Homo sapiens: one gene and its partners. The protein of the gene in region 6 interacts with the protein of the main gene of each other region in a pairwise test. Each region holds a gene or a part of one and is shown on either strand. Other genes may lie near its edges.

Region 1 (4,716 bases), on a different chromosome or scaffold from region 6:
CTTTCTTCCCATCCTTCTTTCCACCTTCCTCTCTCCCTCCTTCCTTCCTTCCTTTTTCCTCCCTCCCTCCCTCCTTCCCCCTCCCTTTCCCTCTCTCTTTCTCTCTCTTTCTCCCTCCCTTCCCTCTTTTCCTCTCTTTCTTTCTCTGTCACCCAGGCCAGAGTGCAGTGGTGCAATCTTGGCTGACTGCAACCTCCGCCTCCTGGCTTCAAGCGATTCTCATGCCTCAGCCTCCTAAGTAGCTGGGATTACAGGCGCGCACCACCAAGCGCAGCTAATTTTTGTATTTTTAGTAGAGAAGGGGTTTCACCACGTTGCCCAGGCTGGTCTCAAACTCCTGGGCTCAAGTGATCCATCCGCCTCAGCCTCCCAAAGTGCTGGGATTACATGCATGAGCCACTATGCTGGGTCTTGGGATCCATGTAGATAAGGGATTCCAGTAAGTCTGAGGAGCTTCTCTCATGAGGGGCCATTGCTAGAAAAGAACTGCACTGGGGATCAGTGTGGGGGTGGGGGAGGTCACATCAGTTGGTGATGGGGAGCAGGTTGAAAAAGTATGCCAGCCAGTGCAGTCTGGACTCTACACTTGGGCAAGGTGAACCTATAGGGCAGAGGCCAGCAAACTATGGCCAGCAAGCCAAATCCTGCCAGATGCATGTTTTTGAAAACAAAATTTTATTGAAACAGCCCCACCCGTTCATTTACATAGTCTACAGCTGCTTCTGTTCTACAGTGGCAGAGGTGAGTAGTTGTGGCAGTTGTACAGCCAGCCATGACAAGAGATACATATGGCCCACAAATCCTAAAAATACTGTCTGGCCATTTGCAGAAAAAGTTTGCCAAACCCTCCTTTAGAGAATTATCTTTAGATGAGTAACACAATGCAGCCTGTTTTAGGAAAGTCAGCCTTAAAAGTGGTTTGGTTCAGTTTAACGAGTAATATCTGCTGGATGTTAGATACTGCGGAGGTGCTGATCAGATAAAAATGAATTGAGAAATGGGGTCTGCCCTAGAGGAACTTCAGTTGAATAAAGGAGACAAGTAAAAATTGTAATACAGCATGCCTCAAAAGAGGTAAGGGCCAGGCTGGGCACAGTGGCTCATGCCTGTAATCCCAGCACTTTGGGAGGCCGAGGCGGGTGGATCACGAGGTCAGGAGATCAAGACCATCCTGGCTAACACGATGAAACCCCATCTCTACTAAAAATACCAAAAAAAAAAAAAAAAAAAAATTAGGCTTCGTGGCGGGTGCCTGTAGTCCCAGCTACTCTGGGAGGCTGAGGCGGGGGAATGGCGTGAACCCAGGAGGTGGAGCTTATAGTGAGCCGAGATTGTGCCACTGCACTCCAGCCTGGGTGACAGAGCGAGACTCCGTCTCAACAACAACAACAACAACAATAACAAAAAGAGATAAGGGCCTGAAAAAGAAACAATTAGCTCGGAGCATTCAAGGAAGATTTCTGGAAAAGGTGATGTCTAAGTGAAATCCTCAAGGAAAGAAAGAGCTGGCCAGGAAGAGAAGCAGGTACAGGGAAGACAACATGCAAAGGACAGAGCAGTAAAACACACCAGAATTATCTAGTGTTCGTGGATAGAAAAATAATGAGGATTGGTGAGGCCAGAGGCTGGCTGGGGCGTCTTCCGGTGCCTTTTACATGTTTTTTGCAGCACTAGAGAGCCATTGAAGAGTTTTAAATAGGGAAGGTGCATGACCAGATCTATTTAGACAGATCATTCTGACTGCAATGTTTAAGAGTTTAAGATATGTTTGAAGAGCCAAGATCTGTTAGGAGGATACTGCAACAAATAAAGAGGGCGTGAACTAGAGCAACCATGGCAGATGGAAAGGAGAGTGGATTCAAGAATGGAAAAATTAGCCAGGCTCTGTGGTTCACGCCTGTCCTCCCAGCACTTTGGGAGGCCAAGACAGGAGGATCACTTGAGCCCAGGAGTTGGGACCAACCTGGGCAGCACAGTAAGACCCATCTCTATAAAAATTAAAAAAATAAATAAAAACGGAAAAATCAGCTGGACTTGATGGTTGACTAGTAAAGGAAGTCAAGAATTGCTCCCAATTTCTGGTTTGGGTGAAGAGTAATTCCATTAGGGGAGGAGAATGTTAGAAAGAAACCAGTCCGGGGTGGGGGGAAGATGAGGCATTCTACTGTGGCAATTTTGACTCTGATATTAATGCCTGACAGATTCCAGCTGGAGGTCTGGGCTGGAGAATATAAATTTGATATGTGTGTTTAGAGAATCGGATGGAGGCAGGAGGAACATCATTTGGCAGAGGGTGTTGCTAATGTAGATGATAAGGAATAAGAGCTTTGGAGCGGAAATGGATCTTGGTAGCAACAATACAGAATCTTCTGTCATCCATCATATTGTAAATCTGGAAACCTCGTGAAGTTGGGATCCTAACAAGAGGAGTACACACCTTGATTTAAGGATGGTGGCCTAAGACAGGTGAGTTTTCCATGGGGGGCCTTGTCCCCAAAGAGTTCACACCAGGAGTAGATTCACCCGTTGTCGGGCTCTCATGGGTGACAATCGGCGCAAGTTCTCCTCACCTGATCCGCAAAATAGATCTTCTGCTTGCCGTACATCTTCTCTTTGATCTTGCCTTGTTGCGCCAGCTGCTCCAGCGTCTTCACCACCACCTGGCAGAGGAGAGAGAAGGAGCAATCAGAGGAGTCTGAGCCTGGGTCTGGGGAAATCCAGCCAGTGATGTGGAAAACGCCCAAGGCTCCAAAGGGCACGACCCCAGCCTGAATCCAGGGAGTCCGACGGAGAGGGAATCCCGGGAGAAGGTCCTCACCGCCTTGCCCAGTCCGTGTTCCCGCTGTAGGTTCCCGAACACATCCTGGGAGCTGTAGGGCCGGTTCTGCTCCTGCAGGTACCTCAGGAGGATCCCGGCGGCTACGGAGAGAAAGGCAGGGGAGGGGGCCACTCAACCGACCTCCTCACCCACTGCCCTCCCGGGTCTTCCCCGCGCCCACGGCGCCGTTACCTCCCGCCGCAGCTTCTGCCCGGCCTTTACTCATCGCCTTTCCCGCCACCCAACTCAGAAAGCCGGACGTTGTAGTTGCTCGGGGCGACGGCTCCTTCCGGCGACGGGGGCGGGCCTCGAACGGTGATTGGCTGAAGGGGAAGCCTTCCGGAGGAGCAAAGCGACCCCTCCCGGACTCCATAGTTCATTTCAGGTCGGAACTTGCGCATTCGGGCCGGACCTCAAGCCATGGGCCTCTGCGAAGGCGCCGGCGTGCCCACGGCTAAGAAACTTCCTCTTTCTGCTCCCGGGAACGAAGGCTGTAGCAGAGAAGGCCTTCAAGTTTCGAGACCCAGTTCCAGCCGCAGCTGAGCACTGGTGACCTTGAATTAAGTCTAATGTTGGGATTGGAAGACGCTTCAGACATCCGCTGCCGCCCTGGGCAAGCGACCAGCTCAAGGTTACCCCACAGGGACGTGCTCTGGTCCCACGGTCCAGTGCTCTTTTGTCGGTTAGTTTTGTCATTTGTAAAATAGGAACAGTAGATAGTGGTAGGAAAGTGGTTGTGAAAACTTAATAGAAAGCTAAGCGCCTTGGTCGGGCGCAGTGGCATGTCACCCCTGCAATTCTATCACTTTGGGAGGCTGAGGCGGGCGGATCGTTTGAGCCCAGGAATTCGAAACCAGTCTGGGCAATATGAAACCCCATCTCTGCAAATAAAGTACAAAAAATTAAGAGTGGTGGCGCGCTTCTGTGGTCCCAGCTACTCTGGAGGCTGAGGTGGGAGGGTCACCAGAGCCCCGGACATCGAGGCTGCAGTGAGCCACTATGAGCGCGCCACTGCACCCCATCCTGGCGACAGAGCGAGACGCAGTCTCGAACAAAAAAAAAAAAAGTGGGAAGGGGGGACAGCTAAGCGCCTTGGAGAGCAACCACCCTTATTTGCCTAATACCGAGCTTCGCACCCAGGGGGCACTCGACACCTACTGTAGTTTGGACGCCAAGGAACGATAGGGTTAGGAGGGGGCTACTGTTCAACCACAAAGCTTGTGGAAAAGTTTGTTAGCCCAGACAATCTCAGGGCAACACCTGGCAGGTGCTTTCCACCCCTGACCACAGTGGCCAATGGGACAGAGCCTGAAATAAATATTTCTAGTTTCTGAGGTGAGCTGAAGGCCAAAGAGCAGCTGTCCCTGCAGCTCAGACCATCCAGTGAAGGAGTAAGGTGCTACTTTTTAAAGCCTTCTGCTACCTACAACCTCCTTAGCCTTTAAAACGTGTGCTTGTCTCTGCACGTTTAGGAGACAATATTAAGAATTAGAAATGAAAGGGCCGAGCGCGGTGGCTCACGCCTGCAATCCCAGCACTTTGGGAGGCCAGGGCGGGCGGATCACGAGGTCAGGAGATCGAGACCATCCTGGCTAACACTGTGAAACCCCATCTCTACTAAAAATACAAAAAATTAGCCAGGCGTGCTGGTGGGCGCCTGTAGTCCAAGCTACTCAGGAGGCTGAGGCAGGAGAATGGCGTGAACCCGGGAGGCGGAGCTTGCAGTGAGAGATCGCACCACTGCACTCCAGCCTGGGCGACAGACCAAGACTCCGTCTCAGGAAAAAAAAAGAAATTAGAAATGAAGGAAATACAGGCTAAATACTAGCCAAGAGTGCCAGTTATACTGATGGTGGGGCTCTCACAAGAAGGAAAGTAGCCTCATACTATGGTGATGT
Region 2 (4,047 bases), on a different chromosome or scaffold from region 6:
CAACACCTTCCGCAAGGCCCGACTGAGGGTCAGCTGCTCTCTCAAACCTGTGGTAACCTCACCTACCCTGAAATCTGCCCTCTGCCTTGGGACAAAATTACAGACTTCTTCATATGTGAAGTGAAAATGTGTGCAAAAGACTACTGCAAAATAACACGTCTTTTATGAGAACAATGAGTTCGTTCCCTGAGGTCAGGTCTACATCTCATTTATCCTTCAGTGCTGATCCAGATAGCAAGTAGGCCCTCAGAATGCTTTTGGCGGAAAGACAGGGACTGTGCGTGCTGATGGCCGACGGTGGCCCCTGACTTGCCCGGGGCCTCTGTTTCTCACCAGGGGCTCTGCCCTCCTCTGCGGGATCCTGACTACTCTCGGAGACAGAGGAACCCCTTAGGGCAGAGACCGTGTGGAGCCTGTGGTTGGCACTGCCCACCCGCTGTGGCTGTGGCTACGCGGAAGGCTCATGAGCTTGTGTTGCCTTTTGTTGCTCTTCCCCCAGTGAAGTCTCCATGTCTACTTCTCTCCTTGCGCTCAGCTCCTCTCCCCACAGGGCACAGGGTTTTCCCAAACCAACAACGGCAGGGAGAACACCCGGGGACCCGCCCCTAACACGGCCAGGACTCAGCCTGAGGCCCCAGCCACAGTGAGGGGCAGGGTCCACGGTCCTCCCCTGAGCACAGGGGCAGCAGAACCCTACAGTCTTGCTCAGTCTTCAAGTTCTCCGATCCGAAGTTGACCACAATATTTACTCTCTAGAGAGTCTAGCACTTCAAAGATTTCCTTATCTTTCCAGTTCTGATGGAAAATAAAGGATCAGCAAATAGCCCTCTATAGGTTTCTTTTCATTCTCTGAAACCTCAAAAATCAGTCTGCTGGTCTGGTCCTTCCCGTGTGGGAAGACTCACCGGAAGCCTTGGAGGAGAGGGATGAGGATGCTGAGTCGTGGGAGCGGGACCTCTCCCTTTTCATGGGGCTTCTCTTCTCCGAGGTAGAGCCTGTTCCAAAACACACACGCTGAGAATGCACCGAAATCACCATTCCTGACATTTGCCCAGCACTTCACAGTGTGTAAAGTGTGTTCCCATGCATCACCTCTCCCCATCCATTTACTCATTCACTGCCATCTTCCAGGCCCCCACCATGGACAGAGCACTGAGGAGACAGGAGGGAGTGGGCTGCAGTGCAGGGAGGCACTCTGGGTGCAGCGAAGGCTCCTGCCCATGAGGCACAGCTGCAAGCTGGTGGAGGAGATGCAAAGAGAGAGGGGTCGGGGAGCCTGGGGGAAAAGCAGGGCATCTCCTGGAAGAGGGGGGCATCTGGCCGTCGCCCTGAAGGGCCTCAGGGTTTTGCAGGTAAAGTAGAGAAAGGAAAACTCTGAGCAGCAGGAAGGGCAGCCGTGCAGCGCAGAGGCCAGAAGGGCAGGGCACAGCCCGGCCACTGCAAGTTTAACGTGGGCCAGTGCTCAGTGCAATGCGGGCTATGGGTAGAGAGAAGCAGATGGTGAAACTAAAGAAGGGGGTCCTGAGATGCCAGGGAGCACGGAGACGTGCAGCAGATACTCACAAATGAAAGAATTAAATCAGAGTCTCTGCCGTGCTTCGAAAAGATGGCTACAGGCGGGCAGGCCTTTCCATCTACATTTTACAGACGAGCAAGCTGAGGCTAAGAGAGGTCCCACAGTCAAGACAGACAAGGCAGACCACAGACCCGCGCTGGTGCCCACACCCACCTCCTTCCATTCCACACACTCCACAAATGCTTTCTAGTTTTTGAATGACTGTCTACGTCTTTCTCATCACATTGTTGACTATAGTCAATGCCTTGCGATGTTATCATTTATGTGTCCTATTAAAAAGGCGGCATCAGATTTGAAGAGTCTGCAAATGAGCCTGTTTTCACACTTCTTAAAAATGGACAGCACGCTGTTGGGTTGATTCACAGAGGAAATAAACAAGCAAATCACACTAGGTGGGAATTCCACCAGTGAGTGGAACGAGGAACTCTAAGAAATTTTGAACTTGAACTCTAAGAAATCTTAATTTTTCTTCCTATTCTTTAAGAATTCTAGAACTAGGAAAAACCTATAGGGATTTCCATTTTCTCACACCACCAAAAGAGATGGGGAGAAAACAAACAAAATCTGAATTCAGTGAGAGCTCTGCCATTTCATCCAACACTGGAGACCTCTCATCCAGAGCCGCTGTCCAGCAGACAGGTCCCAGGACCCTGCTGAACTGGAGACAGCTGTCTCCATAAGCACAGGCAGCCTCAAAGCTCAGAAGCCAAGAAAGACATGCAGACAGGGACAAGTAGGCTGAGGGCAGCCATCCCTCACCTTCTGTCCCCAGCTCCTCATCCTCGTTGTCTGTGCTGCTCAGCTTCTCAGCATCACTCTCCAAGGCCTCGTTCCTAGCCCCCTTCTCCAAGGGAACCTCGTTGCTCACAAAGTAGGCAGCCAGGCCCAGCTCCTGCTCCAAGGCTGTTCTCACCAAGCAGGAGGAGTTTATCAATCGCAGGTCACAGTACCTCAAAGACCTAGCAAGACACAGAAGAAGGTGTCTGTTTAGTGCCTTCCACAAGTGGAGTGCTGTTCCCACTGCGGCAGGCAGCACTGATCGGGACCACACCCCACCTTCCTGGTGAGGACCCAAGGACTCGTACAAGTGGAAAAGCCAACAGTGTTACTGGGAGCTTGCAGCAACAAATTCAGTATAATAGTAAATCTTTGGGGACACCCACTATGCATTTAGCTCTGTGCTGCACTAACTTTTGGGTCAGATAAAAAAGGGGCTTGCAGCACTTTGGGAGGCCGAGGCGGGCGGATCACAAGGTCAGGAGATCGAGACCATCCTGGCTAACACGGTGAAACCCCGTCTCTACTAAAAATACAAAAAATGAGCCAGGCGTGGTGGCGGGCGCCTGTAGTCCCAGCTACTCGGGAGGCTGAGGCAGGAGAATGGAGTGAACCCGGGAGGCAGAGCTTGCCGTGAGCCGAGATTGTGTCACTGCAATCCAGCCGGGGCGACAGAGCCAGACTCCATCTCAAAACAAAACAAACAACAACAACAACAACAAAAAGGGGGGGCTTGAACCTGAGCTCTGCTACTTCCTAGCGACAGAAGCCGTGACAAGCTGCACAACTTCTCTGAGGCTCTGATTTTTTCATCTGAAAGATGGGAATGAATATTAATAACCATCTGGCTGGGCGTGGTGGCTCACACCTGTAATCCCAGCACTTTGAGAGGCGAAGGCGGGCCGATCACTTGAGGTCAGGAGTTCAAGACCAGCCTAACCAACATGGCAAAACCCCATCTCTACTAAAAATACAAAAATTAGCCGGGTGTGGAGGCAGGTGCCTATAATCCCAGCTCCTCGGGAGGCTGAGGCAGGAGAATCACTTGAACCCAGGAGGCGGAGTCTGCAGTGAGTTGAGATTGCACCACTGCACTCCAGCCTGGGCAACAGAGTGAGACTCCGTCTCAAAAAAAAAAAAAAAAAAATCTAAGTCCGCTGTGATAAAGATTAAATGTAATCAGTGAGCATTTAATTATTCAATCCAAGTGAACACAGGCCAGGGTACTAGATGCTAGAAATATGATGGCAATCAAGTCGGACACCAACAAGCAATGCTATCTGTGAGCAGCAGAGGAAAGGCCAACCCCGTGCTCAGACTTGCGCAGCAGAAACACAACCAAGGCAAAGGGCTTAGAGAGGGGTACGTGAGGGTTCCAGTGGGGCTCTGAAACTTACTGCTCATGACCTCAAGCAAATGATCGTTCATTGACTCAACCATGAAACAGGATGGTAATACTACTGCAGCAAGGAGTAAGTTTCATATGAAAAGTCTATCATGATGCCTGGTACAAAGAAGGTACCAGAAGGTACCTGGTATTCAGCAAATGCTTGCTAAAATTTAAAATAGATTAAGACATTGTCTCAGTCCTTAAGGAGTTGAAGAAGAAAAGAATTAATCCATGTGAAATAGCAACAAGCAAGGTCAAATGTTCTGGAGCCCCCTTCCCCTGGCCCATGAGTATGCAGCATGCA
Region 3 (4,047 bases), on a different chromosome or scaffold from region 6:
CATATTACTAGTAGCAGTATGAATGATAACAAAACACCACCAGTGTCTGATAGATTCTCAATAGAATCTATCTTTTAAAATATCTTAAACCATTAAAAATTAATCTTAAAATACTAAAAGTATCTTTTAGATATCTTCAAAAATAGAATACAATAGATTGTTTATAGACTGTGGTTATTAGTATTAACTTTTTATGGAGACTGCCAGAATGCCCCTTAAATCTCATAGACACAGGATAATTGGTATTTAGTCATTGTTCAGGGGAAAAATCAAAAAGGACCTGGGCCAGATGCATTATTTGTTTACATAGTTGCATCATGAATCTCCTTTCAAGTAACTTCCTGGCATTTTCAATGTTCCAGCTGAATCAAGCTGTTGAAGTTTCTTAAGGGGAAGGACAAAGCAGCTCTACTTGTACGGTCATTATTGGAAGAAGCATATCTTCAAATGGCTTCAATCTGGGATATTCCTACTTTCCTGTGTTACTATTCTATATGCTACCAATCAATGTATTCTGAAGATATAACCACTCTGTTTCTCTTCCCCTCATGGCCAGCTCTGTAACTCACTCATTTTAGAATGTTCTTACTGCCTCACCTATTTCTAGTATAAGTGCCATTTTTAATAGCATTCACATTCCTCCTCTACGAAACAGCTCCTTTTGCTTCAGACTTAAGTTTCTCTTGCTAGTGGCAATAATAGTTGCGGTTGAAATTTCCATTGTAAACTATACTTTTAGTTCATGGTGCCATTTAAGAACCGTTAGCTCATTCTGTTGAAATAACCAGTGGCTGAGCTGGGGGGAAAAGTTTTATAAAAAGACTATCTGCTCAGCCCAGAGCAAATTCTAGGTTTGGCAACTTGTCAATTATTTGAAAGCCAAACTGATCCCGATGGGAATTTTAAAAACACTAAAACATTCTCTTCTTCTGGGTGGGTCCTCTCCAGCACCTTCAGTCTTCTCTTCCCAGCTGCGTTTTTTTCTATCACTAACCAGAGTGGTAACTGAGGGCAAGGTCTCTTGCTTTTAAGGAAAGTCATTTTCTTGCCCATTCTGTCTTCTATCTCAGCCCCATTTCTTCTCCCCTTTGTTGGCAAGCTCTTCAAACACATGATATCAACGTTTGCTCTTCCTGCTTCTAGCTACCCATTCCCTTCAGAACTCTGGCAAAACAAACTGGCTTCTTTTGAAACTGCCTTCTTAAAGGGCAACGGGATAAAAACAGCTGTGTATTTCATCTTTGCTGTGTGGCAGATAGTGTATTTCATGCCTTAATTCTTATATCTACTGCATGGTCCTTAATTCTTATATCTACTCAACAAAGTAGGACATCCCTATTTTACAAATGAGCAAGCTGAGGTTTAGTGGGATTTGGTATCTTGCCTAAAGTCATACAGCTACTTTGTGGCAGAGCCAGGACTTGAACCCACCTTGTCTGACTCCAGAATCCTGGTACTTTCCACTGTGTTCCTCTCCGAGGATGCTGCAGGCAATGACTTGACTCATCCAGTGGCCATCTCTCAGTGGCTTGATCCTTCTAGACTTACTTAGAGTCTTTCCCACCTAGAAGGTCCCTACCCAGAAGTAGCTCCCATCTCCTAGACCTAATTCTAGCCAGTTTCCTGACTCCCCTCTCTTTCTGATCTACTCTTTATATTATTTCCCGCTAGCCTTCTGGAACTTGCTGTAGTTCCCTATTGCCTGGAACGGAGATTCTTAACTGGGGATCAGAGGGAGGGGAGGGAAATCCTCAGAATAAGCTGAGAAGCTCAGTATTATCAGGGTCTCATCTCTAGAAATCCCAATTCAGCGGGTCCATGAAGGGATCCAGATATTTCAATTTTTTAAACTTTTGGACCTGACTCTATAATCACAGCTTCCCCATAAGGTTGCTGTCAATATTCAAGGCATCTGGTGCAACGATTCAGACATAGTCAATGCCCCAAACGTGGGGGCTATTCTTAGAATTATTATTGTTATGAAGCCAGTGATCAAGTTTCAAACATCTCAGCAGCCATCTCAGAATCCAGCACAGAATCCGGCCACTGACTAAGTCCTTGTTGAGCCTTTCTGCCTACCAGGTTTTATTCACACTTTGAGTTTAGTGTTTTTGTGTTGCATTGAGACATGAGGATTCTTTCCTCTTATCCTCCTCAGCTCAGCAAACCTGGTGGTTAAAGCAGGGGCTCATCTAGTACTTAAGGGGATAGAGGACAGTGATTTTTTTAAATAGGAAAATACTTTTTGAGCATTCTTTTTTTAAAAAAAAAAATAAAAATAGCCCATAGTCAAAAATAGCAGTGTTGGAAAATTGCCAACTATCAGGTAGAACTTCTCTTTATGTCTCTCATTTGAAATTCCTAGAGAGAGTATCTGATTGGCTCAATTAGTCTATGATGTGGCCTCCCTTTGGGTCCCATCAGCTGTGAACAGGTCACATTGTCAACTGCCCACTCATCAGGGCCAGGACAGGGTGATAAATCTGGAAGGGGAAGTTGGGTGCAGATATGAGGTCACTGACATATCTGGTATAGATGTTATGGAGGATCATGAGCCTGGAGGATTTGAGGACAGCGGCCACAGAAACCTGACACCAGAGAAGAACATATGTCTAAGAAAACCAGAAGGGGTGTGGACCCCGGGAACTGGTTAACTGACCCTCTACAAGGGTCCCTCTGCAAGGATTTCCTACAAGGGTACCCAAGAGGCAGGGTGGGGAAGGAGACACAGCTGTGGCCCTACCTACAGGGAGTAAGTTTAGGTTCCCTCCATCCCCTGCCCCTACCACCACCAACAACAGGTCCTGCCACAAGGACTTAAGAGCAAATAGTGCATTTGGGATGTGCTCCCAGAAAACACTAGCAGGAAGTGGGAAAGTGTGATGAAAGAAAAGAAAGACAATCAACGGTATGCCTGCAAGCAGGTTACTGCTGCGGGCATCTAGGGCTCCATCCCACTGGAGGCCTTAGAGGGAGACTACGTAGATTCTACATGCTTTAGAATTGTCTAGCGAAGGGAGAAGCTAGACTGTTTACCTCCATAGCCTGACTTTCATTGCTAGGATGTTAACTCCCTAGCACTTGGGGCCTCTGCAGACTGAGCATACTTTGGTGACCAGAGAATGCCCTTAGAGAGAGACAGAGTTGGTTGTTGGCATGTATGGGAACTGGATACAGGTGACCTCCAGATTAGGCCACCAGGAGATGGGCAGGGCATCAACAGCGTTTACACAGGGAGCAAGACTATCTAGTGGAAACATGTTCAAATCCCAGCTCCACCCTTTCCTGGGACTCTGGGGAATTTATCTAGTCTTCCTGAGCCTCAGTTTCCCTATTTGTAATATGAGGACATTAACACCCACCTCCCAGAGAGATTGTGAAATTTCAGTGCTGTAATATATGTAAAACGTTTAGTATAATATCTTATCATAGTGAGTACTCAATTAATAGCACCTATCATCATCATCATTCTTTGTAATTGCAGAAGAGGAAAAGAGATTTTTTTTTTCTAATAGACTCCCATTTGTAACAAGAGAAAATAATTTTGCTCATTAAATTCATCGATTTAATAGATGGAGGCAGAAGAAGCTGCTGCTAAAGCATCATCAGAAGTGAACCTGGCAAACTTACCTCCCAGCTATCACAATGAGACCAACACAGACACGAAGGTTGGAAATAATACCATCCATGTGCACCGAGAAATTCACAAGGTAAGTCATGGCCAGCACTTCCTCCTTTCTATAGCGTCCAGTCCCATCAGAGAACTAAGGTTTTTTTGTTTTTGTTTTTTCATATGTGATATACAAGCCCAAACTACAATTGAGAATCATAAAATACGGATTGAAAACCAGAAGGAGTAATGTTACTGTTGAAAGTGGAGAGACAATGTATCAGGATCCTAAACTGCTTTTGCATTTAAGCAATATATTTAACCCTAGGCTTCCTGCCAGTCCAGTTGCAAAGGAATGTCCAGGGATTATCATTTGAAAAAAAGAAAGCAAATGGATGTCTAAAAAGACCCTTTCCTAGCATTGAATTTGTGGAATT
Region 4 (4,662 bases), on a different chromosome or scaffold from region 6:
GCGAGCCCCTGTAGTTCCAGCTACTTAGAAGGCTGAGGTGGAGAATCACTTGATCCTGGGAGGTTGAGGCTGCAGTGAGCCACGTTGGTGCCACTGCACTCTAACCTGGGTGACAGAGCAAGACTCTGTCTCAAAAATAAATAAATGCATAAATAAAGAGAACTGACTGTTGAGGGAAGGTGGGGCATAATATATATATCAAACAGTGGAAAACGGGAAGGAGGCCAATCAAGAATCTATTATAATCCAGGAAAGATGGTCAGGCGCGGTGGTTCATGCCTGTAATCCCAGCACTTCGGGAGGCTGAGGTGGGCCGATCACCTGAGACCGGGAGTTTGAGATCAGACTGGCCAAAACAGTGAAACACCGTCTCCACCAAAAACACAAAAATTAGGTAGGCGTGGTGGCGCATGCCTGTAATCCCAGCTACTTGGAAGGCTGAGGCAGGAGAGTCACTTGAACCCGGGAGGCGGAAACTGCAGCAAGCCGAGATCACGTCACTGCACTCCAGCCTGGGTGACAGAGCAAGATTCTGTCTCAAAATAATAAATAAATAAATAATCCAGGAAAGAGATTATGGCTTGAACCAGCATGGCAACACTGGAGGACATATAAAGTGGTCAGACTTGGAATATATTTTGAAAGTGGAGCCAACAGAATTTGCTAATGCACTGGATGTGAGGAGTCAACAACAACCTAAGGTTTTTTTTCCTGAGGAACTGAAAAAAAAAAACGGAGTGGCCATTAACTAAAACTGACGATGGTCTTAATAGCTGACAATGACTGAATCCTAACCATATGCTAACTGTTCAATTAATCTCCTTACATACATGATCACATTTAATCCTCACTACCAATGTGGTGGGTATCATCCCATTTAACAAGTGTAGAAACCTGATGATTATTGGTAAACCTGAGAAGCTGAAACTGAAATTCATAATTAACAGTTTTCTTAAGAGTCTATGTATTTGGCCAAGCAGGGTGGCTCAATTCTGTAATCCCAGCATTTTGGGAGGCTGAGGCAAGTGGATCACCTGAGGTCGGAGTTCGAGACCAGCCTGGCCAACATACAGAAACCCTGTCTCTACTAAAAATACAAAAATTAGCCCAGCGTGGTGGTGTATGTCTGTAATCCCAGCTACTTGGGAGGCTGAGGCAGGAGAACTGCTTGAACCCGGGAGGTGGAGGTTGAGGTTGCGGTGAGCCGAGATCACACCAGTGCACTCCAGCCTGGATGAGAGAGTGAGACTCTGTCTCGAAGAAAAAAAAAAGAGCCTATGTATTTAACCAGTATTCAATATATCAGTACGTATCATTATGTTCACAGGATCTAGTGTTACCCTGGACATAAATAATCAATCAGTATTGAAACACATTTTCTGAACACAGGTTAAGTCAAGTAACCAATTCCAGTGCAGAAGTGTTTGGCCTCTCCAGGTCTCTGCCAATTCCTGGCAGATGACTGAGAAACAAATCTTTAAAGTCAGGAAATTACTTGTCTTTTCAATTCAGAATCACAATTTCAGAGACTGAAGGGAGTGTAGTTTTTAACCCATTCCCCTCAGTAGAGTAGCAACCAGAATGGGATGCCCACAAAAGATACTGGCAACTAATTTTATATAGTTATCTAAATACAAGATCTTAATAGAAGACTTAATACAAGACCCTGAAATCGTCTGCTGAACTGAAGAGGATTACATTGTCACTTCCACCACACATTTCCCCTGAGCCTCTCATTCTCATTCCCAAGTTCCCAACCTTCTCTCAGGTCCTATTTTTCCTACTCCATGCCTACCCTCACTCACTCCAACACCTTCAGTCCAGCTATATATTACTTGCTGCCTTAACTAAATTTACTAGCGAGCTTCCCCGACTTCTTCAACCTTCTGTGAATGCTGAAACCCCTCCACCTAGGCCTCTTTCAGCAGCTGGGGTGGGGAGGTGGATGGGAGGGGAGTAACTGCTCAGCTTTAACTCTGCCCTGCAAAAACCGTCACTGCACTTCAGACCTAGAAGCAGCACTTCTTTCAAGAGGACCCTCCTTCCTTCCAAACTTCCCCTATAGACACTGCTTGTAACTGCAGCATGACGGCATAGAAAGGGAACGATTTAGGAGGCAGGCAATCTGAGTTCCAATTTTAGATCTACCCCTTACTGTTTACCTTTTTGAATCCGTTTCTTCATCTGTCAAAGAGATAGCACAACTACGCATTCTCAAAGGGTTATGACGAGGCTTGGAAGCGGGGGGCGTACATGAAATGTTGGTCTTCATCCCTCCACATTATGCAACCTGGTATTATTCACTGCGCTGTTATTACGGAACTCCTCTGGATCGTTAATGGAGGTCAGAGAACCTGAATTACAACCTGTCTGTCCCTGTGCCCCCTCCCCCCCAACGTTTATGGCGCAGACAGAAAGCAGTCAGGGGATGCGTGTTGCCTCCAGGTTGATGCGAACCTAGGGCAGGAGCCTGGGCGATCGATCGGCCAGGGAGTGGGGGGTCGTGCGGGCGGCCGAACAGCCGCGGCTTGGCCCCAGACCGCACTCCGCTGTGGCGGGCTTCGATTTCCTCTTGCGTAAAAGTAGGTGGTGACCAAATGCTTAGTCCTCTCCCGGCCAGCCTCAGCTCAGCGATCCGACCCGCACCTCCGATCCCGAGAGCTTCCATTTTACTCGTCCTCGACCACACTTCTCCCCCGACAACTGTCACCCTGACCGGCGCCGCCCACCCCCAGGCCCCTCCGAGCGCCGGGCTGCCGGCAGTCCCCCCGGGAACCGCCCTGGGAGCCCGCCTCAGGCCCGTACTCACGCCCGCTTTGGCTGTGGTCGCCGCGGGTTTCTTCTGCGCCGCGCCGGCCGAGCGGAGCCGCCTCCGGCCGATGTGCTCCAGACTGAGGAAGTCACTGGACAGGTCCAAGGAGCCCGTGGCCGAGGCCGCGGAGTGGTTGTGCAGCTCCAAGCTGCTGCGGAGAACCACCATCTTCTCTCCCTACTGGCCTCGGCGTGCGCGACCGGAGAGAGATCCAGCTCCAGGCGCTCGCAGCTCTGGCTCTTCCGCGCTCCGAATTCTGGCGCCACAAGCTCCGCGCCAGCGGCCGCAGCGCGCGCGCCCAGAATCCCTCCGCCGTCTGTCCCGCCCACGCCACCACCGTAGAACAGCAGGCTCGAAACTCTCCTCCCATTTGTAGAGCGAAGGAGGCCGGGCCAACGTGGAGAGGAACACAGGCCGACAGTATAGAGGACCTGAGCGGAGAGTCCTGGGGAAAACGCTGACTTCTTTTTCTTCACATAGTTCCGGCTCGCTGAGCTCGGCGGAAGGAGACGGTGGGAGCGGTGCGTAGCCCGTTTGGAATTTTGGCGCGGGACGGCGGCGGGGGAAGGGAGGCCTCTGCGCGCTCTGATTGGCTGGTGGGGTCCGGCGTCTCCTCCCCACCCCTGTTGACACCTGCTTGCTGCTTCCCGCCATCCAGGATTCAAATGCAAAATGCCCAGTCCTTGACTGGAGGGAAATAAAGCACTTGGCCTTTGACAGGTTTTGACTTTGAGCCTTAAGAACTTTTTTTTTTTTTAAATAATTGAGGGCTTGACGAAAACAAGTTAACCACCAAAAAGAAAGAAAACACAAGGAGCTAAAAGCGAGCCAGCAGAGTGCCATCGTTTAGTTAAGGACGCGGGTTCTGTACCCATCTTTGCCATTGATCATCCCACATAGAAGATCTCGAACAAATTATTCACCTCCCTGCATTCTAATTTCCTCACACGCTGAGGCAGGAGAATCGCTTGAAGCCGGGAGGCACAGGTTGCAGTGAGCCAAGATCGTGCCACTGCACTCCAGCCTGGGCAACAGAGCAAGACTCTGTCTCAAAAAAAAAAAAAAAAAAAAAAAAGAACCTGTTTCAAAAAAAAGAGCAGGACTCCCAGTTAAATGTGAAGTTCAGATAAAGAACAAATACTTTTTATACGTATCTCGGAATGTACATATAATCGGAAAGTAACTCCGATTGTAATACCTAAGGCCCTAAAGTACTATTATGATACCTTGGAGCCGTGCTTGCACATAATAAGTGCTCAATAAGCGTTCGCTATTATCACAGAATACAAGAAGATGGCTTCTCTAAGATGGCAGTTACTTGACTACTTTGAAATAGGTAACACGCTGAATGATCAGAATGTCCGAGGGCTCTTAGCGAAATAAACGAAAGCTATTTATTGATTTGGATAACTACAGTTCATTAATTTAATATTTGTTAAATACATATTGAGCCTCTATTATGTACCAGGCATTATTCTAAGCACTGGGGATGCAGCAGTGAATAAAAAGAACAAAAATGCCCTAATGGAACTTAAACTCTAGTGGAAGGTGAAAGACAATAAACTAAATGTAAAAGTTTTAAAGTGGCAAGCATTACAGAGAAATATAAAGTAGGGAAGGGGGAGGGAAGAGTGCAATTTAAAATAGGGTGATTAGGGAAGGTCTGGCTGAGAAGTCTGACAAAGGCCTAAAGGTTAGATGGTTCTGGAAGAAGAGAGAGGCGGGAAGCAGGAAGGGGAGAGTGGCGAGGCCAATGAGAACAGAGCCACTGGGAGCAGGTCCTACGGGACTCTGGGTCTTAGTTTGAAACTTTTGAGGGCTTTTATTATAGCCCCCAAATTCCCATCCAA
Region 5 (4,047 bases), on a different chromosome or scaffold from region 6:
GAAAATTCAGCAGAGGCCTCGTCTCACTTGCTGTTTTAGAATAACTTTTACTTAATGCAAAATGTGATGTATAGATATTGCATGTGTTCAACCAAAGTTGGAAAGAGAATCTTTCAGGATTATTACAGAGAGCAAGAGTTCCTGTTAAGATGTGGCATTAAACTAACAAGAGATGTTTTTCAATGTTAAGATTTTAAATCAGGCAAAAAAAAACAAAAAACAAAAATGTTGCTGGTGAGTATATAAAATGATGCATCTACTTTAGAAAATAACCCGGCAGCTCCTCAAAAAGCTAAATACAGAGTGACCATTTGATCAGCAGTTCCACTCCTAGGTATATACCCAAGATAAATGAAAATATATACCACTGAAAAACTTGTATATGTATGTTCATAGCATCATTATTCATAAAAGACAAAAAGTGGAAACAACCCAAATATCATTAACTGATGAACAGATAAATAAAATATGGTATATTCATACAATGGAATAATATTTGACCATAAAAAATGAATTAAATAATAATACATGGCACTATAAGGATGAACCTTAAAAAGGTTATGCTGAGTGAAAAAATCTAGTCACAAAAGCCTACATATTGTATGATTCCATTTATATGAAATGTCCAGCATAAGCAAATCTATAGAGACAGAAAGTAGATTAGGGGTTTCTTAGGGCTGTGGCATTTGAAGAAAATGGGGAGCAGGTGATAGCTAAATGGTATAGGGTTTCTTTTTGAGGAGATGAAAATGTTCTAAAATTGATGTGATGATGGTTGCACAACTTCGTGGATATACTGAAAAAAGCACACATTTTCTTTTTTTCTTTTTTTTTTTTTTTTTGAGATGGAGTCTCGCTCTGTTACCCAGGCTGGAGAGCAGTGGCGCAATCTTGGCTCACTGCAACATCCACCCCCAGGTTCAAGCGATTCTCCTGCCTCAGCCTCCCGAGTAGCTGGGACTACAGGCACATGCCACCACACCCAGCTAATTTTTGCATTTTTAGTAGAGACAGATTACACTGTATTGACCAGGCTAGTCTTGAACTCCTGACCTCAAATGATCCACCCACCTTGGTCTCACAAAGTGCTAGGATTACAGTCATGAGCCACCATGCCTGGCCAAAAGTATACGTTTTCAATAGGTGAGTTGTATTGGCGTATGAATTTTATTTCAATAAAGCTGTCGCCAGAAAACAAACATGAAAAACAAGCAAAAATCATGGAATCATATTTATCAAATTACTATCATATTTACCATGATATTAAAGCCAGAAACTGTGGTCTGACAACATTTGAAATGTACAAGAAAACCTGGGCCCAAACTGACTTCCAAATATTGCTAATTTTCACATTAATTCAATCTCTCTCATTCGTAGACTGAGACACTTCCTGAAAATACTCAGTAATGTTTTTGGAGGTTCTGCACATTCTTCTACTTGATGATTTTATCTTTAATTGCTTATACACATTCCCAACTATTCATACCATTTCTTTAAGGCTAATGGGTTCTCTCTATATTCATTGCTTTCTGTTTTTTCTCTCCATTCTTTTGGGTGTTTCCAAAACACATGCGTTTTATTATGTCTCTTGGCCATGAAATTCCCACACAAGAATTTTTTCCATGTCAGAATTCAAAGCAAAACTTGGAATTCCCTTATTTCACAACGTATACTGACTTAGAAGAGGTCAACATCTCTTGGGACCCAAAATAGGAGGGCATTGTAGAGTACAGCCGAAAGGATTCCTAATAATATTACAAAGTATGCAAAGATGAACTGTTACTTTCCAAGCGTTCCTAAAGCCACAGCTTTTACATTATCCAAAGATGTCCTTTCAATCAGCTCTAATCATAACAACATGTATTGAGTACTTACTGGGTTCAAGGCCATGGGCCTCGAGGTTTGAAATGCAGTAGCAAAACCTCAGTACTGCAATCTAAAGGGAAATCACCTCCATATCTTGTGAAAATTGTGTGTCCTCTGCACCATATGTCAGCCAACAGCTTGATGGCTTAGTTAAATATCTGTAGGTAGATATCTGATTATTAGATACCCATTTCCGAGCTCTTCTCTAGTTCTGGGTTACTGCATTGATTTCTCTCTTCTATTTCAGGATGGGGAGATGACATCACTTGGGTACAAACTTATGAAGAAGGTCTCTTTTATGCTCAAAAAAGGTAACATGCTTCTCAGCTCATTTTTTTCCTTTTATTTGTAGTAGACTCATAATAATTGTACATATTTATGGAATATAGAGTGATATGCTGATACATGTACACAATGTGTAGTGATCAAATCAGTGTAATTAGCATATGCATCACCTGAAACATATCATTTCTTTCTGGTGGGAACACTCAAAATCCTCTCTACTAGCTTTTTAAATATATACAATAAACTATTGTTAACTGTATGTACCCTATAGTGCTGTAGAATACTACTCAAACTTATTCCTCCTATCTAGCTATATTTTTGCATCTATTAATCAACCTCTCCTTATCCTTCCAGCTCTGAACCCTCCCCAGCTTCTAATAACCAGAGTTCTACTCTCTACTTCTATTAGTACAACTTTTTTTTAAGCTACTCTATATGAGTCAGAATTTGTGGTATTTATCTTTCTATATCTGACTTATTTCACTTAACACATCCTCCAGGCTCATTCATGCTGCTGTGAATGAGAGCATTTCATTATTTTTATGTCTGGGTAGTAGTCCACTGTGAATATATAACATGTTCTCTTTATCCATCCATCCATTGATGGACATTTAGGTTGATTCTATATCTTGGCTATTGTGAATAGTGATTCCATAAATATGGAGATGCAAATATCTCTTTGATATACTGATTTTTTAAATAAATACTCAGTAGTAGGAAAGCTGGATCATATGGTAGTTATATTTTTAGTTTTCTGAGAATCCTCTATATGTTTGCATAATGGCTGTACTAATTTACATTCCTACCAACAGTGTATAAGAATTCCCTCTTCTCTGCATCCTCACCAGCATTTGTTATTTTTTGTCTTTTTGATAATATCAGTTCTAACTGTGGTGGGATAATATCTCATTGTGGTTTTGATCTGCCTTTCCCCGATGATTAGAGATGTTGAGAATTTCTTCATATCCTTGGCCATTTGTGTGTCTTCTTTTGAGAAATGTCTATTCAGATCTTTTGCCCATTTTAAAATCAAATCATTTGGGGTTTTTTGTTGTTGAGTTGTTTGAGTTCCTTGTATATTCTAGATATAGGCCCATGTCGAATGAATAGTTTGCAAATAATTTCTCCTATTCTACAGTTTGTCCCCTTATGCTTTTGTTTCCTTTGCTGTTCAGATGCTTCTCAGGTGACATAGTCCCATTTGTCTATTTTTGTTTTTGTTGCCTGTGCTTTTGAAATCTTACCCATACATTTTTTTGCAGGGAACAATGTCCGAAGGGCTTCCCTTATATTTTCTTCTAGGAGTGTTATAGTTTGGGGTCTTACATTCAAGTCTTTAGTCCATTTTGAATTGATTTCTGCATATGGTAAGAGTTAGGAGTCTAGTTTCATTCTTCTACATATGGATATCCAGGTTTTCCAGCACCATTTATTGAAGAGGGTGTCCTTTCCCCAATGCATGTTCTTGCCACCTTTGTTAAAAATCAGCTGACTTTAAATACGTGGATTTATTTCTGGGTTCTCTATTCTATTCCATTGGTCTAGGTTTCTGTTTTTATACAAATACCATGCTGTTTTGTTTACTATAGCTTTGCAGTATATTTTGAAGTCAAGTAGTATGATGCCTGCAGTTTTGTTCTTTTCACTCAGTATTGCTTTGAACTATTTGGAGTCTGTTGTGGTTCTATACAAATTTGAAGATTTTTTTCTTTCTGTTTCTGTGAAAAATATCATTGGTATTTTGATAGAGATTGCATTGAATCTGTAGATTGCCTTTGGTGGTATGGTCATTTTAGCAAAATTCATTCTTCCAATCCATGGCATGGGATGTCTTTCCATTTTTTGGTGTTCTCTTCAATTTCTTTCATCAATGTTTTATAGTTTTTCTTGTAGGGA
Region 6 (3,345 bases):
TCAAGACCAGCTTGGCCAACATGATGAAACCCTGTCTCTAATAGAAATACAAAAATTAGCTGGGCGTGATGGTGTGTGCCTGTGATCCCAGCTACTCAGGAGGCTGAGGCAGGAGAATCACTTGAACCCGGGAGGCGGAGGTTGCAGTGAGCCGAGATCGCACCACTGCACTCCAGCCTGGGCGCTGGGCAACAGAACAAGAATTGGCCAACTTGCCTACCACTTATTAATAGTACCTCTAATAGGTGAGATTAGAAAAGGTGATGTGCCAAGATGAGGAGGTGGAGTTTTATCCAGACCTCATTTATCTGCATTCCTGTTCCTTCCCAGTCACACTGGGAAGTGAGCTCCCCTGCTCTTAGCATCAGACACATCCTGGAAAGTGTGGGGCAGTGTTGCGTAAACGGATTTTTCTTACAAGTGCTATGGTGACAGAAAGCAGCCTCCTCAGTCAGCACGGCCGGCATTTATCACACATGTGGCATGCGCGCGGCACCGTGCTAACTGGATGTCCTGAGGAATTTAAGCAGGTACGATAAATGCAGTGTATACTGTGGGAGCACTTAGGGGAAGGGACTGATTTGGTCAGAGATGTTAGGAAAGAGGAAGCACCTGGTGACAGCTTCCCAGAAAACACTGCATTGATTGTTAAAGGACAAAAGCAGTTACCAGCAAGCAGGGCTGGGAATTCCACTCAGATGGCACAACCCAAGCAAAGGCGCTGAGAGACCTTGGGGAAAACTGGGATCCACAAGTACTTGGGTTTAGATTTGTGCAAAGTATGACCTAAGGAATGGCCAACTAGGCTACAGAGGGAGGTGCAGCTGGGAAGCCCTTCCACATAAGACCGTGGCTGAAGAAGAGCCAGTGAAGGGTTTAATCATGGGAGGGTGTCACATGGTCAGATTTCTGTTTTAAAGTAAATTACTCTGGTGTCTGTGTGGAGGAAGGCTGGAAGGCTGAAGGTTTGCTGGCAGAAAGACCATTCAGGAAGGAGGGCTTTGCCAAGGCAGTCATCAAGGATGACTATTTTCCATTACTATATAATTTTTTAAATTCTTCAAGGGCTCACAGTTTGATTCACAAAGTTAAGAACTATGTGGGGGCAGGAGACTCCATTTATTTAATTCTAAAAGGGAGCTGCCTCAGAACCAGATGTGGGACTTAGTCGTTTGCACCATCTGCTGTGGGTATAAGCACCGCATACCTGTTTCATTTTCTTCCTCAAAAAGTTCTCCAGGATTGGCTGTATGTTACTCAAACAATAAAAGCACACAAGTCAACAAGTATCAGAGTGCCTACTTAGACAAAGCCAATGAATACATTACCATGGATGTTGCATAAGCCAATACATCAGGGTGGGTTTTGAGAAAAGTGTGCCATAAGCTGCTCTACAGCTTTAAATCACTTTAAAGGTCACTGATGGAATTTTTCAGTCGATCCTAATATAGATTTCACAGCAAGTACCCATTGCTGTAAGTGACAGTGAACCCAGGAAAGGCAGAGATCTGCTCACCAGCATAGACCAGACCACGTGAATGGGAAGGGGCTCAAAGCATGTATGAATAGGAGTCACCATCTGGGGGCCGGGCGCAGTGGCTCATGCCTGTATTCCCAGCACTTTCGGAGGCTGAGGTAGGCAGATCACCTGAGGTCAGGACTTAGAGGCCAGCCTGGACAACATGGCAAAACCCCGTCTCTGTTAAAAATACAAAAATTAGCCGGGGAATTTTGAGAGGGAATACTTGAGAGGCTGAGGCAGGAGTATCAAGCGATTCTCCTTGATTCTTAATTTCATTGAGCCGAGATTGTGCCACTGCACTCCAGCCTGGTCTCAAAAAAAAAAAAAGTCACCATCTGGCCTTTGGTTGGTTATCCACCAAGGATATTCTGGCATCATCAGGAAGAAAATATTCCTGTTGTCCTTTCTACAACCAAGATCCTGTGATCTAGATGGCAGGTATATTTAATGGCAGAACAAACTATCCCAGCAATAATAAAGGATGAGAACCACATGACTCTTTGGCTAGAGGCTTCTCTCTCTTTAAAAGAGTTGCCTGAACATCTTTGGCCTTAAGCAGACCACATCCTCTCTTAGATGGAATAGAGTTAAGAAATAGGCCCACACATATGGCTGACAGTTGATTTTCAACAAAGGTGCCAAAATAATTCACTGGATAAAGTATAATCCTGCAAATGGTATCTGCTATTGGATATCCATATGCAAAAAAGTGAATCTCGATCCTTACCTCATACCATACACAATAATCCAAAATGGATCATAGACCCAAAATGTAAGAGCTAAAGTATAACCTTCTGTAAGAAAACATAGGAGAAATTCTTTGTGCCCTTAAGCTAAGTAAAGACTTCTTGGCCAGGCACGGTGGCTCACGCCTGTAATCCCAGCATTTTGGGAGGCTGAGGCAGGCGGATCACCTGAGGTCGGGAGTTCAAGACCAGCCTGACCAACGTGGAGAAACCCCGTCTCTACTAAAAATACAAAATTAGCCGGGCGTGGTGGCGCATGCCTGTAATCTCAGCTACTCGGGAGGCTGAGGCAGGAGAATTGCTTGAACCCAGGAGGCAGAGGTTGCACCATTGCACTTCAGCCTGGGCAACAAAAGCAAAACTCCATCTCAAAAAAAAAAAAAAAAAAAAAGAAAGAAAGAAATTCTTAGGACACAAAAAGCATGAACCACAGCAGAAAACATTGAGTACACATATATCTGATAAAGGACTTACATCTAGGCTATACAAAGAACTCTTACAACTCAGTGAGAAGATAAAATTTAAATAGACAAAAATTTGAATAGACACTACATCAGAGAAGGCATACAAATGACAACTACATGAAAAGATGTTCAAAGCATTCATCATTAGGGAAATGTAAATTTAAACCAACCACAATGAGATACCACCACACTATCTAGAATGGCTACAACTAAAAAGAATGATAGGCCAGGCACGGTGGCTAATGTCTGTAATCCCAGCACTTTGGGAGGTCGAGGCGGGTGGATCACCTGAGGTCAAAAGTTCGAGACCAGCCTGGCCAACATGGCAAAACCCCGTCTCTACTGAAAATACAAAAAATTAGCCAGGCGTGGTAGCACACACCTGTAGTCCCAGCTACTTGGGAGGCTGAGGCAGGAGAATTGCTTGAACCCGAGAGGTAGAGGTTGTGGTGAGCCAGGATCGTGCCACTGCACTCCAGCCTGGGCAACACAGCGAGACTCCTTCTCAAAAAAATAAAAATAAAAAATGATAAAACTAAGGGTTGGCAGCATGTGGAAAAACTGGAGTCTTCATATGTTACTGCTGTGAATATAAAATGATACAGCCATTTTG
Region 7 (4,824 bases), about 83 Mb from region 6:
GCAAAGTCTAAAAAACAAACAAACAAGGCAAGGGGAAAAAAAGAGGAAGGCACTGCCCCTTTAAACGTTTTAGTGCATATGGAGTTTGATTTCTGAAAGAGATCAGTTTAACATCTCCATAGAAACCAGCAACAGATTATCATCAACAGAATAAATAACTAGTCTAATAAATTAAACAGGAGGCATAAGATCGCTGGAAACCTGATTACTGAAGTTCAACAATATTCCCCATAAACTCTCCTTAACCGCCTCTAAGGTGGCTAACAAGAAGGGGGTGGGTGGCGGGGGGGCGGGGCGGCGATCTCTCCAATTCGCCGGACTCTGGGGACAGAGATGGTGGCTACCTCCTGGAAAGGAGAAGTTCTCCACTCTGCCCTGAAGAGGGTCCAGGAGCTCCCGCGAGGGGCACACCCTAAAAACCGAAGTTTGGGAAGTGGGAAAGCGGCTGGGGGTCGGGGGAGTGGCGCGGGCGGCCGGAGATTGCGCAGGTCGCGACGCCCGCCCGGGACGCACCGCCTGGTCGCCACCAGGACGCAAACCCGGCGCTTTGCGCTCGGGCGCCGAACGGCCCAGCGCCCCCTCCGGGCACGTGGAGCGCAGCCCCGGCTCAGCCCCCGGGGAACAACTACCCCCCTCCCCATGCCCGGCGCAGCTGCTCCTGCTCAGCCGGGACAGCTCCCTTTAGGACGGCGACGTGTGTGTGTGCGCGTGTGTGTGCGTGTTTGTATGTGTATGCGTGTGTGTGTGTGTGTGTGTGTGCGCGCGCGCGCGCGTCGTGGGTTGGGCGGGGGGACACCAAGATTATCCGGCGATCTGTTTTCCAGTCCCCTCGTGCGCTCTCACCGCGCGCCTGTACCAGCTCGGAGACGTCCTAAATTTACTAACTTTGCCCCGCGACTACCAGGGCCTTTTCCCCCTCGCCACCCCCTGAGTGTACCGGGTGTCGGCGGGACAACTACGCACAATGAGGGCCGCACCCCCACACTCCACTCGGTCAGAAACGCACACTCCGCCCCGTGGCCCAGTGATCCAGGTTTGGGGGAGCTCCATACTCAGGAGAGGCGCTACTGCCGCTTTTCCGGTGGGCACGCACCCGCACCCGCACCGTAGCCAGCGTGGCTGGAAGGAGGTCCTCGCCGCGCCCAGAGCCGGCTTTCCAAGCTGAAGCTGGGGCAGAGGAACTTGTGTGGAGGAAGAGGGGGTCCCCTGCCTCCCTCAGCGCTCCACTAGCCTCCCCCAACTCCGGACCCGGGTCGGGGATGACTTGGAAGAAGAATCTGCGCCCACCCCTTAGAGAAAAATCTATTATTATTATCTTAATCTACGCCCCCAAAGTGTCCCTCCAGCCGTGATTGACGGCGCATACACCTGTTCCCTTCGCGGAGGAGCTTCCAGCGCCGGGGACAGACATTCGCCCAAACGCTCCGCAGCGGCCCAGCAACCGCCCGCCCGCCCGCGCCCGGCCAGCCCCCGCCAGCGGCCCCAGCGCGCCTCTGCCCGCACCTCGCCACCCCGGCGGCCGCCCCCTCCCCTTCCAGACCCGGCTGCCCGGCCCGCCAGCTCCCGGCAGTGCTGGCTTCGGAAAGAGAGAGAAAGAACAGAAAGCAAAACTTCCTGGCGGCCGACGGCCATCAGCTGCACATTCTGCAAATGCCACCGAGTAAAAATAAACCGGCCGCCGCTCCGCCCGTCCGGCTCACCCCGGGCGCACGAATCGGCCCCCTGCCCCGGGAGATCCCTGACTCGGTCTGGCCCGATCCCCCATTCCCGCGCGCCCCCTGGATCCCCGCTCCCCGACGCTCCTCCGTCAGTCACCACGCTCTCCTTTGCCGTTAAGCCGGACCCTAAGTGACCGGGAAACCGGCTCTCTCCCTTTGGTGTTCCCTGCGCCCCCACAAACTACTTTTTTCTCTGTCCTTCACCAGGTGCCTATTTCAGCCCTGTGCCCTTGGATTCAGGGCTCCTCCTCCCCAATTGTTGAGCTCCGAGGTCACCCTCAGCCCACCCTGGGGGAACAGACCCCGACCGACCCTCTCCCACGCTGCAGAGCCCCCCCGGAGCGCACCACTCTACCAGCCCGCTAGCCCGCCAGCCCAGCGTCCCACGTCCCCGGGCGCAACTTCTCTTCTGGCGCACACAACAGCCGGCAACAACTCGCCCGAACTTTCCCCGGGACCCAGGCGGGCTCCAGCCGACAGCCGGGCAGCTCTGGGCCGATGCCCCGGCTCCCCGTGCCCTGTGTTGCCAGCCCTTCAGCTGGGGAGGCAGGGGGTGGGGTGGGGAAGGGAGTGAGGAACGCCACTTGCCGCGCCTGGAGCAGCGCACTTGAGATAAACTTCCCAGGCACAGATGAAAAAGGGGGCGCCGCTCCCCCCATCTAAGAAATCTCTTGCCTTCGATTTCCTATGGGGGATACCCTTTGGCACCCCGCGCCTAAGCGAACACTGCCTACCTCTGCTGGCAGCACCTACACCCGGTATCCGGGCACAAGAGCCGGCTGGAGGGGTTCCCCACCCACCCCTTCCCATGGGCAAAGTCTTGCAAAGTCACCCCAGGCACCCCTCACCCCGCCTCCTTCTCTGCCCTGGAGAGCGCACGACCCCTCTGCTGCTGGGGGGTGGGGTGGGGTGGGGGTTTAAGGGGAAGGAGTGATTACCCGGTATTGGAGATCACCTGCCCCCCCGGGAGCCCACAGCGCGTGGGGCGCCCCCACCCTATTTGCAAAGTCCTGTGCTCGCGCCTGGCACCTCCCTCTCTTCTCCCCTACCCCGCCACCCCCTCAGTTGGAGTAAGCGACCCCCAGGAGGAGCAGCCCTCCCCTCCCCCGGAGCCGCGCGCCGGGCATTCCCCTGGCCACGGCAGGCAACGCGCCGCCCCGCGCCCGGGTGCCAGCCCTCCGTGCCCCCTGCCTCCGCACGGCCGGAGTTGGGTGGCAGCCGCCGATCGCAGGCTGGCTGGCTGGCTCGCTCGCTCGCTCGCTCGCCCGCTCCCTGCTGCAAGCGGCAGCCCCGGGGGTGGGGGGGGTGCACCGGGACAGGGGGAGAGACGGGGAGGCGCCCCGGGAGGCCCGCGGAGCTGGGGGACGTGGGGGGGCCGCGGCGGAGGGAGCGCCGAGTCTCTTACCTGCACTTGGGGCGGCTTTGGGTGACTTTCCAAGTCCGGGGGAAAAATGTGTGTGTGTTTGGGATGGAGCGCCGCGGGCGCGCATGCGCTGCCCAAAGTTGCCGGATCCCGGATTTTTCGCTCCCAGTCTCCGCTCTCGCCCGCTGTGATTATGGAATTCTCCGCGGCCGGGCGGGCGAGTGGGTGGCATGCAAAACCCGGGCCGGATCGCGGGGCCGGGCTCCGCTCCACCCTCACACCCCCAGACCTGCCCCTCCCGGATCCTTCCCACCCACCGCCCGGGCTGAGCTCAGCGTGTGCGCGCGGCGAGTCGCACGGCCTGCGGAGGAGCATCTGAGCGCTCGGCCCCCTTTTGCAGGTCCAGAGGCTTCTACACCCCCCCCCAGCTGAGTTGAGTTGAGGCTAGGGGAAAAGAGAGAAGGGATGGGGGGGGGGGTTACTTTCCACCTGTTCTGAACCCCGAGAGAGCCCGAGTTCGGTTCCCACTTTCGACAGAAGAACTGGCTCTTTTTTGCAAGTTAGAATGTTAGAACTGTGGAACCCAAAGGAACGAAATGTTCTCACTGTTTGATATCTGCTTTGCACTTATTCTTTGCAAGGGAGTTTTTCATTCAATCTATTGTGCAAGAAATAAATCCTTAAGTGAGCAAGATAGGCCGTGCAGAATGAACCTTACATGGAGGGGCTGGGGGGGGGGCAGATAATACACATTAAAACAAGTGGATAATGTTATTTCAGAGAGTGAAAGTATCCATGAAGAAAATAAACCAAGGCAATAGGCTAAAAAGTGTCTTGGGGGCCGGCATGGTGGTTTACGCCTGTAATCCCAGCACTTTGGGAGGCCGAGGCAGGAGCATCGGTTGAGCCCAGGAGTTCGAGACCAGCTTGGGCAACATAGCTAGACCTCATTTCTGACAAAACAAAACAAAGCAGTGTCTTGCGAGAGATAATCCCCTTGCCCCCAGATGGGGGGGAAGGGCCTTTTGAGGGGCACTTTCATACTTTATTGAAGAAACCCCCTTTTCTCCCATACCCAGACTTCCCATTTCCCAGTTGGTTTGAGGTGGCCACACCAGCTGAGCCTAGTAGTCAGCTTCAGTGCTGAGGCCCTGTAGCTCTGGTCTTGCCTTTCTCAGCAAGCGCACCCCTCATTCCAGGCCTGAGCTGCTTTTCCCTTCAGCATAAGCGTGGGATGGAAATATCGAGAGGCATGAAAGAAACTGAAAACACCCAGATGATGAGATAAGTGAGAAACTGACCATAACAGTAAACGAAATAGATCAATGATTTGTGGAATAAATGAATATAAATTCAAAGTATGACCCACAGCTTCAAGCCCTGCTCAACAGAATGCATTAAACTAAGAGGCAATGCCACAGGCTGGTAAACATTGTTGCAGGCTGGTAGTATTTGGAGCCTAATCTGCAAGGTGTCAGGAAAGCCTCTCAGGACCAGAGAAACGACCCAAAACCCTGTATGATGATTGTCTAAGACAAGCATCTTCCGGGATGCATTCCCATGTCCTGCCTTAAACTGGAAGTTAATTGTCCAGAAGCATATGGACACAGACTGGAGACATGATGGCCCTCTGGCCCTGAGGAGGCCAGGATTTGCCCTGTGCCCTAATAAAGCCAACAAATTTGGGAGAGGAAGCTGAGCCATCCCACACTCCTTAGATACTCAGTGATATTTGCTTGTGTT

The links.
Region 1: the proteins of BCAR3 (region 6) and PSMC3IP interact in a two-hybrid assay, tested with the Homo sapiens proteins (one large-scale study listed by BioGRID and IntAct).
Region 2: the proteins of BCAR3 (region 6) and GREB1 interact in a two-hybrid assay, tested with the Homo sapiens proteins (one large-scale study listed by BioGRID and IntAct).
Region 3: the proteins of BCAR3 (region 6) and DKK3 interact in a two-hybrid assay, tested with the Homo sapiens proteins (one large-scale study listed by BioGRID and IntAct).
Region 4: the proteins of BCAR3 (region 6) and ATAD2 interact in a two-hybrid assay, tested with the Homo sapiens proteins (one large-scale study listed by BioGRID and IntAct).
Region 5: the proteins of BCAR3 (region 6) and AGR3 interact in a two-hybrid assay, tested with the Homo sapiens proteins (one large-scale study listed by BioGRID and IntAct).
Region 7: the proteins of BCAR3 (region 6) and CASZ1 interact in a two-hybrid assay, tested with the Homo sapiens proteins (one large-scale study listed by BioGRID and IntAct).

The regions. Positions count from the first base shown.
Region 1 is NC_000017.11:42,574,643-42,579,358, forward strand, and holds the start of PSMC3IP (homologous-pairing protein 2 homolog), read right to left. Parts: upstream 3,088-4,716; 5' UTR 3,045-3,087; coding exon 3,011-3,044; exon of another isoform or gene 2,920-3,010; coding exon 2,819-2,919; intron 2,661-2,818; coding exon 2,571-2,660; exon of another isoform or gene 2,438-2,570; intron 1-2,437. UniProt on the Homo sapiens protein: Plays an important role in meiotic recombination. Stimulates DMC1-mediated strand exchange required for pairing homologous chromosomes during meiosis.
Region 2 is NC_000002.12:11,613,579-11,617,625, reverse strand, and holds part of GREB1 (protein GREB1), read right to left. Parts: intron 2,536-4,047; coding exon 2,336-2,535; intron 996-2,335; coding exon 906-995; intron 1-905. UniProt on the Homo sapiens protein: May play a role in estrogen-stimulated cell proliferation. Acts as a regulator of hormone-dependent cancer growth in breast and prostate cancers.
Region 3 is NC_000011.10:12,001,963-12,006,009, reverse strand, and holds part of DKK3 (dickkopf-related protein 3 isoform 1 precursor), read left to right. Parts: intron 1-3,572; coding exon 3,573-3,710; intron 3,711-4,047. UniProt on the Homo sapiens protein: Antagonizes canonical Wnt signaling by inhibiting LRP5/6 interaction with Wnt and by forming a ternary complex with the transmembrane protein KREMEN that promotes internalization of LRP5/6.
Region 4 is NC_000008.11:123,393,378-123,398,039, forward strand, and holds the start of ATAD2 (ATPase family AAA domain-containing protein 2), read right to left. Parts: upstream 3,071-4,662; 5' UTR 2,981-3,070; coding exon 2,810-2,980; intron 1-2,809. UniProt on the Homo sapiens protein: May be a transcriptional coactivator of the nuclear receptor ESR1 required to induce the expression of a subset of estradiol target genes, such as CCND1, MYC and E2F1.
Region 5 is NC_000007.14:16,871,910-16,875,956, reverse strand, and holds part of AGR3 (anterior gradient protein 3 precursor), read left to right. Parts: intron 1-2,113; coding exon 2,114-2,177; intron 2,178-4,047. UniProt on the Homo sapiens protein: Required for calcium-mediated regulation of ciliary beat frequency and mucociliary clearance in the airway. Might be involved in the regulation of intracellular calcium in tracheal epithelial cells.
Region 6 is NC_000001.11:93,563,605-93,566,949, reverse strand, and holds part of BCAR3 (breast cancer anti-estrogen resistance protein 3), read left to right. Parts: intron 1-3,345. UniProt on the Homo sapiens protein: Acts as an adapter protein downstream of several growth factor receptors to promote cell proliferation, migration, and redistribution of actin fibers.
Region 7 is NC_000001.11:10,793,441-10,798,264, forward strand, and holds the start of CASZ1 (zinc finger protein castor homolog 1), read right to left. Parts: upstream 3,207-4,824; 5' UTR 3,124-3,206; intron 1-3,123. UniProt on the Homo sapiens protein: Transcriptional activator. Involved in vascular assembly and morphogenesis through direct transcriptional regulation of EGFL7.